2 separate regions of the Homo sapiens genome follow, and region 2 is linked to region 1. The links come from fine-mapping of genetic effects on gene expression. Tissue or cell type: whole blood. Region 1 holds a variant in brackets; the other region holds the start of a gene. All regions are shown on one strand. Distances are between the middles of the regions.

The links. PIP is the estimated chance that this variant, and not a neighbour inherited with it, causes the effect.
Region 2: EZH1 starts here. The variant in region 1 is fine-mapped to the expression of EZH1 in whole blood (TOPMed, PIP above 0.99).

Annotation. Positions count from the first base shown.
Region 1 is chr17:42,689,781-42,697,001 of GRCh38, reverse strand. CNTNAP1 (contactin associated protein 1) reads right to left here. Exons shown (of 24, transcript NM_003632.3): 12 at 6,795-6,914; 13 at 6,060-6,263; 14 at 5,709-5,865; 15 at 5,491-5,618; 16 at 5,011-5,196; 17 at 4,282-4,503; 18 at 3,466-3,705; 19 at 1,128-1,481; 20 at 850-977. Among named protein-coding and RNA genes, the nearest start is that of CNTNAP1, 11 kb to the right of the region's middle. RefSeq lists an enhancer at 5,602-6,101. The variant T/G (reference allele first, on the strand shown) is at 2,889.
Region 2 is chr17:42,742,214-42,747,213 of GRCh38, reverse strand. It overlaps EZH1 (enhancer of zeste 1 polycomb repressive complex 2 subunit), which reads left to right and starts at 2,174. Exons shown (of 21, transcript NM_001991.5): 1 at 2,174-2,203. RefSeq lists a silencer at 2,017-2,596.

The sequences.
Region 1 (7,221 bases):
AGGTCTTGCTATGTTGCTCAGGTTGGTCTCAAACTCCTGGCCTCAAGCAGTCCTCCCACTTCAGCCTCCCAAAGTGTTGGGATTACAGGTGTGAGCCGCTGCACCTGGCCTATATATTTTTTAAAACCCTGGTTTTAAGCCCCATCTTTGCAGCTTACCAGCGGTTTGACTTTGGGTAAACCACTTTATTTTTTTGAGATGGAGTCTCACTCTGTCGCCTAGGCCTGGAGTGCAGTGGCACGATCTCAGCTCACTGCAACCTCCACCTCCCAGGTTCAAGCAATTTTCCTGCCTCACCCTCCTGAGTAGCTGAAACCGCTTTACTTTCTGAGGCTCTTTACTGATTTGTAAAACACTTAAATAAGAATGCCTATTGTCTGGCTGGGCGCGGTGGCTCACGCTTATAATCCCAGCACTTTGGGAGGCTGAGGTAGGCGGATCATCTGAGGTCGGGTGTTCGAGACCAGCCTGACCAACATGGAGAACTCCTGTCTCTACTAAAAATACAAAATTAGCTGGGCGTTGTGGCGCATGCCTGTAATCTCAGCTGCTCGGGAGGCTGAGGCAGAAGAATTGCTTGAACCCGGGAGGCAGAGGTTGCAGTGAGCTGAGATCACACCATTGCACTCCAGCCTGGGCAACAAGAGCAAAATTCCATCTCAAAAAAAAAAAAAAAATGCCTATTGTCCCCTTGGAGCTATTGTGAGGGTTACATGAGGTGACACACGTGAAAATCCTCTATACATTCAAATGTGATCTACAAATATTAAGTATTTGATGTTTTCCTGGATGCCACAACGGAGACCATGAGGTTATGATCTGAACTGGCTCACCTCCCTCTATGCATACCTGGATGAAGAGGTTCCGGTAAACACGGGTGATATTGATGCTATGGGGCTGGCCATCGGTCACTGGTCGAGTGGTTAGCTGGTACACGTAGGGACTGGTGCCCAGCTGATATCGCAGCTGAAGGGTCCCTGTGGGGTGGGGAGAAGAAATTTGGGGTCTCAGGCCCCATGACTCCTATCTTCTAACAGCACGTGGGTCCTTGTATTTGTGAATCAATAGGAGAATTAGGGGCACCGGGGTGAAGCTGGAGTGGGGTGAGAGAGCCCGGGAGAGCTTACCATCATCCTTGATGAGCACAGCCATGTAGTCACGAACAAAGGAACTGACGTAGAGCAGGACAGCAGGGGCGGAGCTGGTGCTGAAGCTGAAGGAGACCTCCTCTCCCGTAACGTTGTAGACAGGCCCACGGTAACCGGGCACAGGCCGACCAGGCCGGGGGTAGTCGGGCAGGCGGTACCCGGGGCCATGGTAGCCAGGCACATAGCCCGGAGTATCATAGCCCGGGATGTAGCCAGGCTCATAGCCTGGCACTGGCCGGCTCAGCATGTGGGAGAACTCCCTGGCTGCAGAGCGCAGCGCTGACTGTAGGTTATAGCGCATCCAGGTGCCCGGCTCAAAGAAACCACCAATATCTGCAGGTAGAAGCAGGGAGGTTAGGGCCCCCACACTGCTCACTCCCCAATTCAGAGGTTTTATGTCATCCATACACACATCCTGAGACTTACTTCAGTTTCTGCCACCCTCACAACCCTCCATTTACTTTTAGGTCCCCTTGAGCCCCTCTGTCACAGAACAGAATCTTACAGCCATGGGAAACTGGAGATCATCTGATCCAACCCCTGCATTTTACAAATGGGGAAACAGGCTCAGAGATGAGTAGTGACTTGCTTAAAGACACGCAGTAAGGCCAGGCACAGTGGCTCACACCTGTAATCCCAGCACTTTGGGAGGCCAAGGCAGGCAGATCATCTTGAGGTCAGGAGTTCGAGAACAGCCTGGCCAACATGGCAAAACCCCATCTCTACTAAAAATACAAAACTTAGCTAGGTGTGGTAGTGCATGCCTGTAATCCCAGCTACTATAGGAAAGCCAAGGCAGGAGAATTGCTTGAGCCCAGGGGGCAGAGGTTGCAGTGAGCCAAGATCATGCCACTGCACTCCAGCCTGGGTGATGGGGATATCCTGACCCCATGTAGTATATGTGCCACTACTCACACTTCCAAACCACCACCAGAAATCTGTTGGTCCCTAAGTCTTGTATCTCCCTAGTCCCCCACACTCCTCCCACCAGTAACCCACCTGCTCATATATCCTCCCTATAGGCCAGCCTTAGGGAGGATGCAGTCTTGGCATGTGTGTAGGATCTTGCTATGGGGAATGTCAAGGCTCACCTTAACCAAGAACTGGGTCATTGACATGTTTTAGGAATGCAGCAATCATCAAATACATTGACAAGGGAGTTCGCCTGTGTTACCATGGTGATGGTGGGAAGATGGAGAAGCGATTTGCTTTTTTTTTTTTTGTAGACACAGTCCTTGCTGTGCCCCCCAGGCTGGAGTGCAGTGGCACGATCATAGCTCACTGCAGCCTTGACCTCCTAGGTGCAAGTGATCCTCCCACCTCAGCCTCCCGAGTAGCTAGGCCTAAGTGTGCACCACCATGCCCAGCTAATTAAAAAATTTTGCCAGGCGCTGTGGCTCACGTCTGTAATCCCAGCACTTTGGGAGGCCAAGGTGGGTGGATCACCTGCGGTCAGAAGTTCGTGACCAGCCTGGCAAGCGTGGTGAAACCCCATCTCTACTAAAAATACAAAAATTAGCCGGGTGTGGTGGCACACACTTGTAATCCCAGCTACTTGGAAGGCTGAGGCAGGAGAATCGCTTCAGCCCGGGAGGTGGAGGTTGCAGTGAGCCGAGATCGAGTCATTACACTCCAGCCTGGGCAACAAGAGTGAAACTCAGTCTCAAAAAAAAAAAAGAAAAAAGAAATTATTTTGGCCAGACGCGGTGGCTCACGCCTGTAATCCCAGCACTTTGGGAG[T/G]CTGAGGCAGGCAGATCACAAGGTCAAGAGTTCGAGACCAGCCTGGCCAATGTGGTGAAACCCCATCTCCACTAAAAATACAAAAATTAGCCAGGCATGGTGGTGCACATCTGTAGTCCTAGCTACTCGGGAGGCTGAGGCAAAAGAATCGCTTGAACCAGGCGGAGGTTGCAGTGAGCCGAGATCGTGCCACTGTACTCTAGCCTGGGTGACAGAGCGAGATTCCATCTCATAAAAAAAAAAAGAATTTTTTTTGTAGAGACAGGGTCTTGCCATGTTGCCCAGGCTGGTCTCGAACTCCTAGCCTCAAGCAATCCTCCCACCTTGGGCTCCCAAAGCATACTTGGTGATTTTGAGATATTTTTGCACCAGCTATCTGTACCATCCCTTCCTTGTCCATGCCTTTGGAGTCACCCATGATCTTCAACTGCCTAACTCCCCAAACTCAGAGCTCAGGAATCCAGGGACAACTCTAATTTTCCATGATATGGGCTTTACATGCTATTTCCTTCCCTGCCCTCCCTACATCCCATTACACCCTATGGCTCCCTGTTGCCCCATAACCAGCAGCACTTACCGTGGTTGCAGTATGGCCCATCAAAAGCCGTGAGGTCACAGTCACACGTGTAGTAGCTATAGCGCTCCACGCAGCGGCCTCCATGGAAACAGGGGAGCCGAGGGTGGGCACAGTGGCCTGTGCAGTTGGGTGAGGTACCCTCAGAGGCATTGGCACGGCCCTCCAGGTTCAGAGTCACTCCGTTCAGACGCATGGCCCTCAAGCAACCCACAAAGGGGCGTCTCTTAAGCTCTGCAGATCCTGGGAAGGGTAGGCAACAGGTCAAGAAATGGAGGCAGGGCCAGGCGCGGTGGCTCACGCCTGTAATCCCAGCACTTTGGGAGGCCGAGGCGGGCGAATCACGAGCTCAGGAGATCGAGACCATCCTGGCTAACATGATGAAACCCCGTCTCTACTAAAAAATACAAAAAAAATTAGCTGGGCACGGTGGCGGGCGCCTGTAGTCCCAGCTACTCGGGAGGCTGAGGCAGGAGAACTGCTTGAACCCAGGAGGCGGAGCTTGCAGTGGGCCGAGATCGTGCCACTGCACTCCAGCCTGGGTGACAGAGCGAGACTCCGTCTCAAAAAAAAAAAAAAAAGAAAAGAAATGGAGGCAGAGCCAGAGACAGGATGAAGTATTGTAGTTGGAAAGGGAGCCAAGAGGGCTGGAAGAATAGAATAGGATACAAAGGCCTGGAGGGACAAGTGAGACACTGGCTTGCTCTGAAGCAGAGGGGACTGGCACCTAAGACAGGAGGCTCCTGGAAACAAGGCGAGTGGCCTTGGAGGATGGGGAGGTAAAGGAGGCTTCAGACTTGCCTCTGGGTTGCTGCTTACCCACATAGAGGGGCTGGTCATACTCCATCCAGATGTAGGTCTGCAGTGGCATAGGCCGCAGAACCCAGGGCCGGTGATCCACTCGGAGCCGGGCCTGCTTCACGTTGATTTCAGCCCGGACCAGGTGCCACTCGTCATCATTGAACTCAAAGTCGTCTGAGTGTACTGTGAGGTTCTCATCCCCATTCCCCACATCAAAGGCGAAGACCACATCCCGGGATGCTGGACAGTGTGATGCAGGGTAGGGGAGAAAAGGACTCAGACCTACAAGACCCTTCATAGATCCTTGCCCAATATAACCTCTTTCCCTCACCTCTTTGGAGCTTCTTGAATATCCCTCCAATTTGTCTGTAGCTTGCATTGAAACTTACCAGCTGCTTAAAAACCTCATACCCTTTGTCTCTCCCCACATCACAGATCCCTGAAGCCAGCTTCCCAGCCTCACTTCCCAGGCTAGAAGCATGGCTAATCAGCGGTGAGAGGGACTCGAAGGTCCAGCTTCCTTATGGCACAAGGAAGGGGCTTAAGGCCAAGAGAGGCCAAGTGAATGCCTAGGGTCACCCAGCCAGCCGTCAAGACCGAGTGAGGGCTAGAACATAGGGTATCTCAACCCTTCCCATGCTGCCTGTCAAAAGGGCATCTGCCCTTGGCTCCAACCCCAGCCTACCCCTGTCTCCCCAGACAGCACTTTCATCTACCCCGAGGCCCTCCCACAGTCTGCCTGCTCACTGTTGAGTTCCACCCGCACATAAGGTCGGCGCCACTGGCAGTAAGGGCCCCCCATATTCTCTAGGAAGACCCCCGAGGGAGCAGAGGTCCTGAAGTAGAAGGAGACATCCAGGCTGTGGTTGGCACGGATTGGGGGGAAGCGTAGTGCAGCCCCGGTGTGGAAGGAAATGGTGTTCCAGGAATTTCCTAGAAAAGCAGATGGAGGAAGGTCTTGTCAGGGAGATTGGAGGGTGGAGGAGGAAGAGAACCTGGGGTTGGGGGCAGGGAAGGTTGGGCAAAGGGGGAGGGTTTGAGGTGACGGAGGGGAGACTAAGGAGTGGAATGAAAGAGGAGCCAGGTGCAGAGGGGTAATGAGATCGCATCACAGCAGGAGCTGGGGGTCGGGCACCCCAGCTAGAGACCACCAGTGACATGCGGCCTAGATTTTGGAAACTGGAGAGTCAGCTCTGGGAGGGCACACAAAAGGGGACTGCCACTCACGATCGCCATAGCAGCGCAGAGGCCTCAGGAAGAACTGGGCCTCAGAAGTGGAGCGGTTCGTATCCCCTATCACTACCTGAGTGACAGGCAGATGGTCCACAAAGGTCAGCAGTCCCTTGTCAGTTCTCCTGTGGGGGCAGGATGTCATGGCTCAGCCCCAGCCACTCAGCTCCTCCCACTCCCGGAGTCCTAAAAACCCTGTCCCTTTGCCCCCTCACCACTGGGGCTGGTCAGCGTCACAGTTGCAGTACAAGGCAGGGTCCACACAGCTCCGGTCCAGACCACAGGCACAGCGCTGGATCCCAGGCTGGGAGCCTCCCCAGTAGAAGTGCTGCTCCTCATTTCGGCCAATCCAAAAGCTGTAGGGGTAGCCTCCTGGGGAAGAGGTGCAGGCAGCTTCCAGGCCCTGTCCCTCCATTAGCCTCTGGGCTCCTCTCGCCCTTCCAGCGAGTTCAGACCCCTCCTTGAATCTTCCAACCCAAGGCCCCAGCTGGCTCTCTGGCTTCCTTCTCCCAGGCCCCCATTGGTGTCTCCTCCAGTTCCGCCACCTCCCTGACCCCAGCCCTAACCTGCAGTGTTGAGCAGCCGGGAATTGTAGCAGGAGAACTCGATCCACTGTTCACAATGCTGGGAAGCATTGGCAAGGGCACTGACTTCCTCCCAGGATGCATTCCAGTACTGGATAGCCCCCAGGAATGGCCGCTCCATGCTGGAACCTGTCACTCGAGTTGTCCACAGCCTGTCATGCCGCACAACTGTCCACGCTCGGTTCTCTGGCAGACAAGAGGGGACAGAGCTTTGGCTGGAGTTGGGCATTCTCTACCCATCTCCCTGCCCACCTCCACCACCGCTGCTGCAACTCAGAGCCACTGAACGTGGCCAGCAGCTCCATTCCACCTCTGCCCTGGGCACTCTGCATTGTAGGCTGGAAATAAGATAGCTGGAATGGGTAAGGAAGCTGGGATATACTTTTTTTTTTTTTTTTTTTGAGATGAAGTCTCGCTCTGTTGCCCAGGCTGGAGTCCAATGGCGCTATCTCAGCTCACTGCAACCTCCACCTCCCAGGTTCAAGTGATTCTCCTGCCTCAACCTCCCGAGTAGCTTCCCAAAGTGCTGGGATTACAGGTGTGAGCCACCACGCCTGGCTTGGGATTTACTTTTAAGGCTAGGTTACAAATTCCTCAGTATGCCCTTCCCCTCTGTCCTCCTTTACCCTCACTTGTTTAGTCTAACTGGCCCCCACCCACCACTCTATCCTTCCTGGTTCTCCCCTCACCCCCTCACCACCCAACAGAGACACTTACCTCGGATATCACAGTACACTACAAATGGCTTCAGGGGGCCACTGCCATCAGGATCAATGGTGAAGTTTCCAGAAGTTTTCCCACTGAGCCGATAAGCCTCACAGGATTCCTTATACAAAGCTGGCAGATAATAGGTTGAGACAAAGGCAGTTAGAGAGTTAGAGGGCTGGCCAGGTGCGGCGGCTCGGGCCTGTAATCCCAGCACTTTGGGAGGCCGGGGTGGTGCATCACCCGAGGTCAGGAGTTCGAGACCAGCCTGGCCAACATGGTGAAACCCCATCTCTAATAAAAATATAAAAATTAGCTAGGCGTGGTGGTGTGCACCTGTAGTCCCAGCTACTTAGGAGGCTGAGGCAGGAGAATCGCTTGAACCCAGGAGGCAGAGGTTGCAGCGAGCCCAGATGGCACCACTGCACTCTAGCCTGGG
Region 2 (5,000 bases), 51 kb before region 1:
GGGAACAGAAAGGAATGCCAGTATAAAGGAATATTTTCCTTGATTTGGTAGTTAAATGGATAGGGGCAAGGGAAAAACAGCAAAGTTTTTATATAAGGAAAAGAACACTAAATCTGGTTGGAATCCAGCGACCTGAGTTTAAGACCTGACAGAATTATTCATCTGTGTAAGGCAAGTCTTCTAACTCCTTTAGGCCAGAATAACCTGATGTGTAAACTGAAGTTGCCCTACGTACTTCATACAGTTGTTATGAAGATTACTTGAAAAAATGAACATTATAAGCTTTTCTAATTATACACTTTGAGACAAAATCAAAATCAAGATGTTATTATTTTGCATTTTAATTTGTAATTTTAAAAATTTATATTTTGAAATAATTTCAGATTTAATAGAGTTGCAAATATGGTAGAGTTCCTATATGTCCATCAAACTTCCTCAATTACAATGATTAAAACCAGGAATAAGATTGATAAAATACTATTAATTAATCTAGAGATTTTATTCTAATTTCATCAAATTATCCCACTGGTGTTCTTTTTCTGGACCAGGATTCAAGCCAGGATCACACATTACATTTAGTTGTCATATCTCCTCAGTCTCCCAATCTGAGATGGTTTCTCACCCCTTGTCTTTCATGATCTTGACACTTGAAGATACTGGCCAGTTATTTTGTAGATTGTCTCTCATTTTGGATTTGTCTGATGTTTCCTCATAATTAAATTCAGCTTATGCAGGCTGGGCATTGTGGCTCATGCCTGTAATCCCAGCACTGGGAGGCAGAGGTGGGGGGATCACCTGAGTCAGCAGTTCGAGACCAGCCTGGACAACATGGTGAAACCCCATCTCTACTAAAATTACAAAATTTGCCGGGTATAGTAGTGCATGCCTGTAAACCCAGCTACTTGGGAGGCTGAGGCAGGAGAATCGCTTGAACCCAGGAGGCAGAGATTGCAGTGAGCCGAGATTGCACCATTGCACTCCAGCCTAGGCAACAAGAGTGAAACTGTCTCAAAACAAACAAACAAACAACACGCACAAAAAATCAGCTTATGCGTGTTCGTCAAGAATACCACAGAAGTGATTTTGTGCGCTTCTCATTGCATCATGTTCAGAGGGACCTGGTAAGAATACCTCTCAGCTGGGGGCAATGGCTCATGCCTGTAATCCCAACACTTTGGGAAATCAAGGTGGGAGGATGGCTTGAACCCTGGAGTTCAAGACCAGCCTAGGCAACACAGCAAGACCCTGTCTCCTTAAAAAGAAGAGGGAGGCCGGGCGTGGTGGCTCATGCCGGTAATCTCAGCACTTTGGGAGGCCGAGGTAGGCAGATCACTTGAGGTCAGGAGTTTGACAGCAGCCTGGCCAATACGGTGAAACCCCATCTCTACTAAAAATACAAAAATTAGCCGGGCGTGGTGGCACGAACCTGTATTCCTGGCTACTTGGGAGGCTGAGGCGGGAGAATTGCTTGAGCCCGGGAGGGAGAGGTTGCAGTGAGCCGAGATCGCGCCACGGCACTCCAGCCTGTGTAAGTAACAAAGCGAGACTCCGTCCAGCCTCGCCCCCCGGCAAAAAAAGAAGAAGAAAACAATACCTCTTATCACTAGTGATGCTAACTTTGATCACTTAGTTAAGGTGGTGTCTGACAGATTCTTATCTGTAAAGTTGCTATTTTTTTCCCTTTGTAACTAGCAGGTGTCTTGTGGGGATTTATTTCGATACAAGGCTATAATTTTGATTCTAAGTGACTAGAAAACTATGAACAGAAATAGGGAGATCAGACATAAATAAAGGGCTTAGAACCCATAGACCGGTGTCTGGAGAACTGGTAGGGGTGAAGCATCGGTATGAAGGTGATCTGGGTTGGCTTCAAACGCTGAAGTGAGATGTGGCTTGTCACCAGCGCGTGGGGATGGCAAATCCGCTGAATAGGGTCTTCAGGAAGATATTAGTGGCTCTGCGAAGGTTTCCCCAGAGCCCTTCCCCTCCCCTGCCAGCGCCGCTTTGGAAGCCGTCTGGGAGGCTGCACCCGCCAGGACTCCTGAGTGCGGGGTTTTGGCGGCAAATGACAGTAGTGCGTCCGCGCGGCACGGGTAAGTCAATGCGCACGCGCCGACAGGAGGCGCGGGGCGGGGCACGGCGCAGGGGTGGGGCCGCGGCGCGCATGCGTCCTAGCAGCGGGACCCGCGGCTCGGGATGGAGGGTGAGTGAGTAAACAAGCCTGGGCCGGGCGGTGGGGCCGGGCCTCCTCCCCTCGCCGCCCTGGGCCTGAGGGAGGGAGAGGCGGAGGGATCAGGAAATTGGAAGGAATCCGAGGGACACACTGCCTGCCTGGCCGGGGGTAGCAGGCGCCCCTCCTCATTCCGAGGGTGGGGGAATGGGGGCGACGGGGCGAGAGAGACCCAGGCGAGGACAGCGTCTGGGGCTGCGAGGGCTGTGTGCCCGGGAGGAGGAGCGGCGGGGGCGGGCTCGGGGACGGGGAATCCCGTTGGATGGCGGTGTGGGCCGGTGGGCGGGAGCCCCAGCGCCCAAAGGGCGCGGGAGGGCGGTGGCACCTGCGGGGGCCTTTAGCGAGGTGGACTCTGGGGACCTGGAGCTGTGCTTGGGGAGGGCTAGAGACCGGGGCTGATCTTGCGATGGCTTTCGGGGATGTTGAGGAGGGGTAGCAGTAAAAACAAGGCCGGGACTAGGGTGAGGTGAGTAAGGCTCCCAAGGCACAAAGTGTAAAGGAGCACTGACTCAGGGTCGCGCAAGTGCAGTGAGCGCCTCCTCACGTGCGTCCTGGGTGCCTCGGTCGCCTCACCCCAGGCCTGGCCCTGAGCAAGAATCTCCTTCACTCCAGACTTTTGGTCTCACGCCAATGATCGCTCACCCCCACCATTCAACCGAGGATCAAATGATATAAATAAAAGTGCCTTGAAGCACAGACAAGGTGTTGTATTTGGGACATGCCTGTTAGGAAATGTGGGACAAACTTTTATTTCAATAAAAAGTGACTACTGAGGAATTGTTTCTTGAGCAGGGAAGGGAAGGGATACCTGAAGGATGTTAGTGCCCCCCGTGGAATGTGAAGGAATATGGAGGGTGAAATACAGGGTTGTATGTGATGTAGCCCAGGCCGATAGGAACCTGACGCTTGGCAGGGGAGGATGAAAGCAAAGGAGCTCAGGTACACTAACAATTAGGTGGGTGCAAGGATGGCAATGAAAACGCGAGTCTCCTCCACGTTTGCTGCCATACTGCCGCTGAATAAAAAAATTCCCACACCCCATGTTTTTTAAATTTAGGAAACTGATATTGAAGGAGGTTTCCAGCCTGAGAAGGTGCTAACCCTATTAGAGGTTTCTGTGAAAGCTTGTCTATTTTAAGTCTTGGAATCCCCAGATATGCCACTGATAAAAGAGATTACTTACATAGGAGAGAGTGTGTGTTAGGAGATAAGTACTTTAGACTGGGCTCGGTGGCTCATATCTGAAATCCCAGCATTCGGGAGGCCCAGGCAGGAGAATAGCTTGAGCCCAGGAGTTTGGGACCAGCTCAGGCAACAATAGCGAGACCTCATCTCTACAAAAAAAAAATAGCCAGATGTGGTGGCCTTCTCCTATAGTCCCAGCTGCTTGGGAGGCTGAAGCAGGAGTATTGCTTGAGACTGGGAGGTCAAGGTTGCAATGAGCTCTGATCCTGCCACTGCACTCCAGTCTGGGTGACAGCACCTGAGACCCTGTCTCAAGAAAAAAAAAAAAAGCCTGGCACGGTGGCTCATGCCTGTAATCCCAACACTTTGGGAGGCTGAGGTGGACCGTTCACTCGAGCCCAGGAGTTTGAGACCAGCCTGGGCAACATGGGACAACTCCATCTCTACTAAAAATACAAAAATTAATCAGGTGTGGTGGCACACGCCTGTAGTCCCAGCTACTCGGGAGGGCTGAGGCATTAGAATCGCTTGAACCGGGAGGTGGAGGTTGCAGTGAGCCGAGATTGCACCACTGCACATCAACCTGGGCAACAGAGTGAGATTCTGTCAAAAAAAAAAAAAAAAAAAGGAGGCCTGGCACAGTGGCTCAGGCCTGTAATCCCAGCACTTTGGGAGGCCAAGGCAGGCGGATCACTTGAGGTCAAGAGTCCGAGAGCTGCCTGGGCAACATGGCGAAACTCCTTCTCTACAAAAATACAAGAATTAGCTGGGCGTGGTGGTGGGTGCCTGTAATCCCAGCTATTCAGGGGGTTGAGGCACGAGAATCGCTTGAACCTGGGAGGTGGAAGTTGCAGTGAGCCGACATGCACCACTGCATTGCAGCATGGGTGACAGAGCAAGACTCCATCTCAAAAAAGAAAAAAAAAAGGGAGAGAGAAGTACTTAAAAACGCACATACATAATAGGAGAAAGGACTATCTATAAAACTGTAATAATGCTATCATTGTCAAGGTTTATGCTTATTGTTGTGTGTCACAAACATAATGAATCAACTCCAAAGGCAGGGATATATGTTTTATTCATTGATGTACCCCAAACACCTAAAATGGTAACACATAGTAGATACTACTATTAAGTATAATAGTAGGTGCTCAACATATATTTGTGGAATAAATAGTGGGGAAATTTCTGGCACTGGGAGTCAGGTGATCCGGATGCTAGTATTGTCAGTAACTGGCAGAGTACTTGTATGCTAATCGTGGAACTTGATGCTAAGGCCCAGCTTAAAATTCCTTAAAGTGTAAATGACTTCTTCATTATGATGGTTACATTAGTGCCCTTTGAAACAGCACTAGAGGCTGGGCTGATGGCTTACACCTATAAGCCCAGCACTTTGGGAGGCTGAGGCTGTTGGATCACCTGAGGTCGGGGAGTTCAAAACCAGCCTGGCCAATATGGTGAAACCCCATCTCTACTAAAAATACAAAAAATTAGCCAGACGTGGTGGCGGACACCTATAATTCTAGCTCTTGGGAGACAGAGGTGGGAGAATCGCTTGAACTTGGGAGTGGGAAGTTGCAGTGAG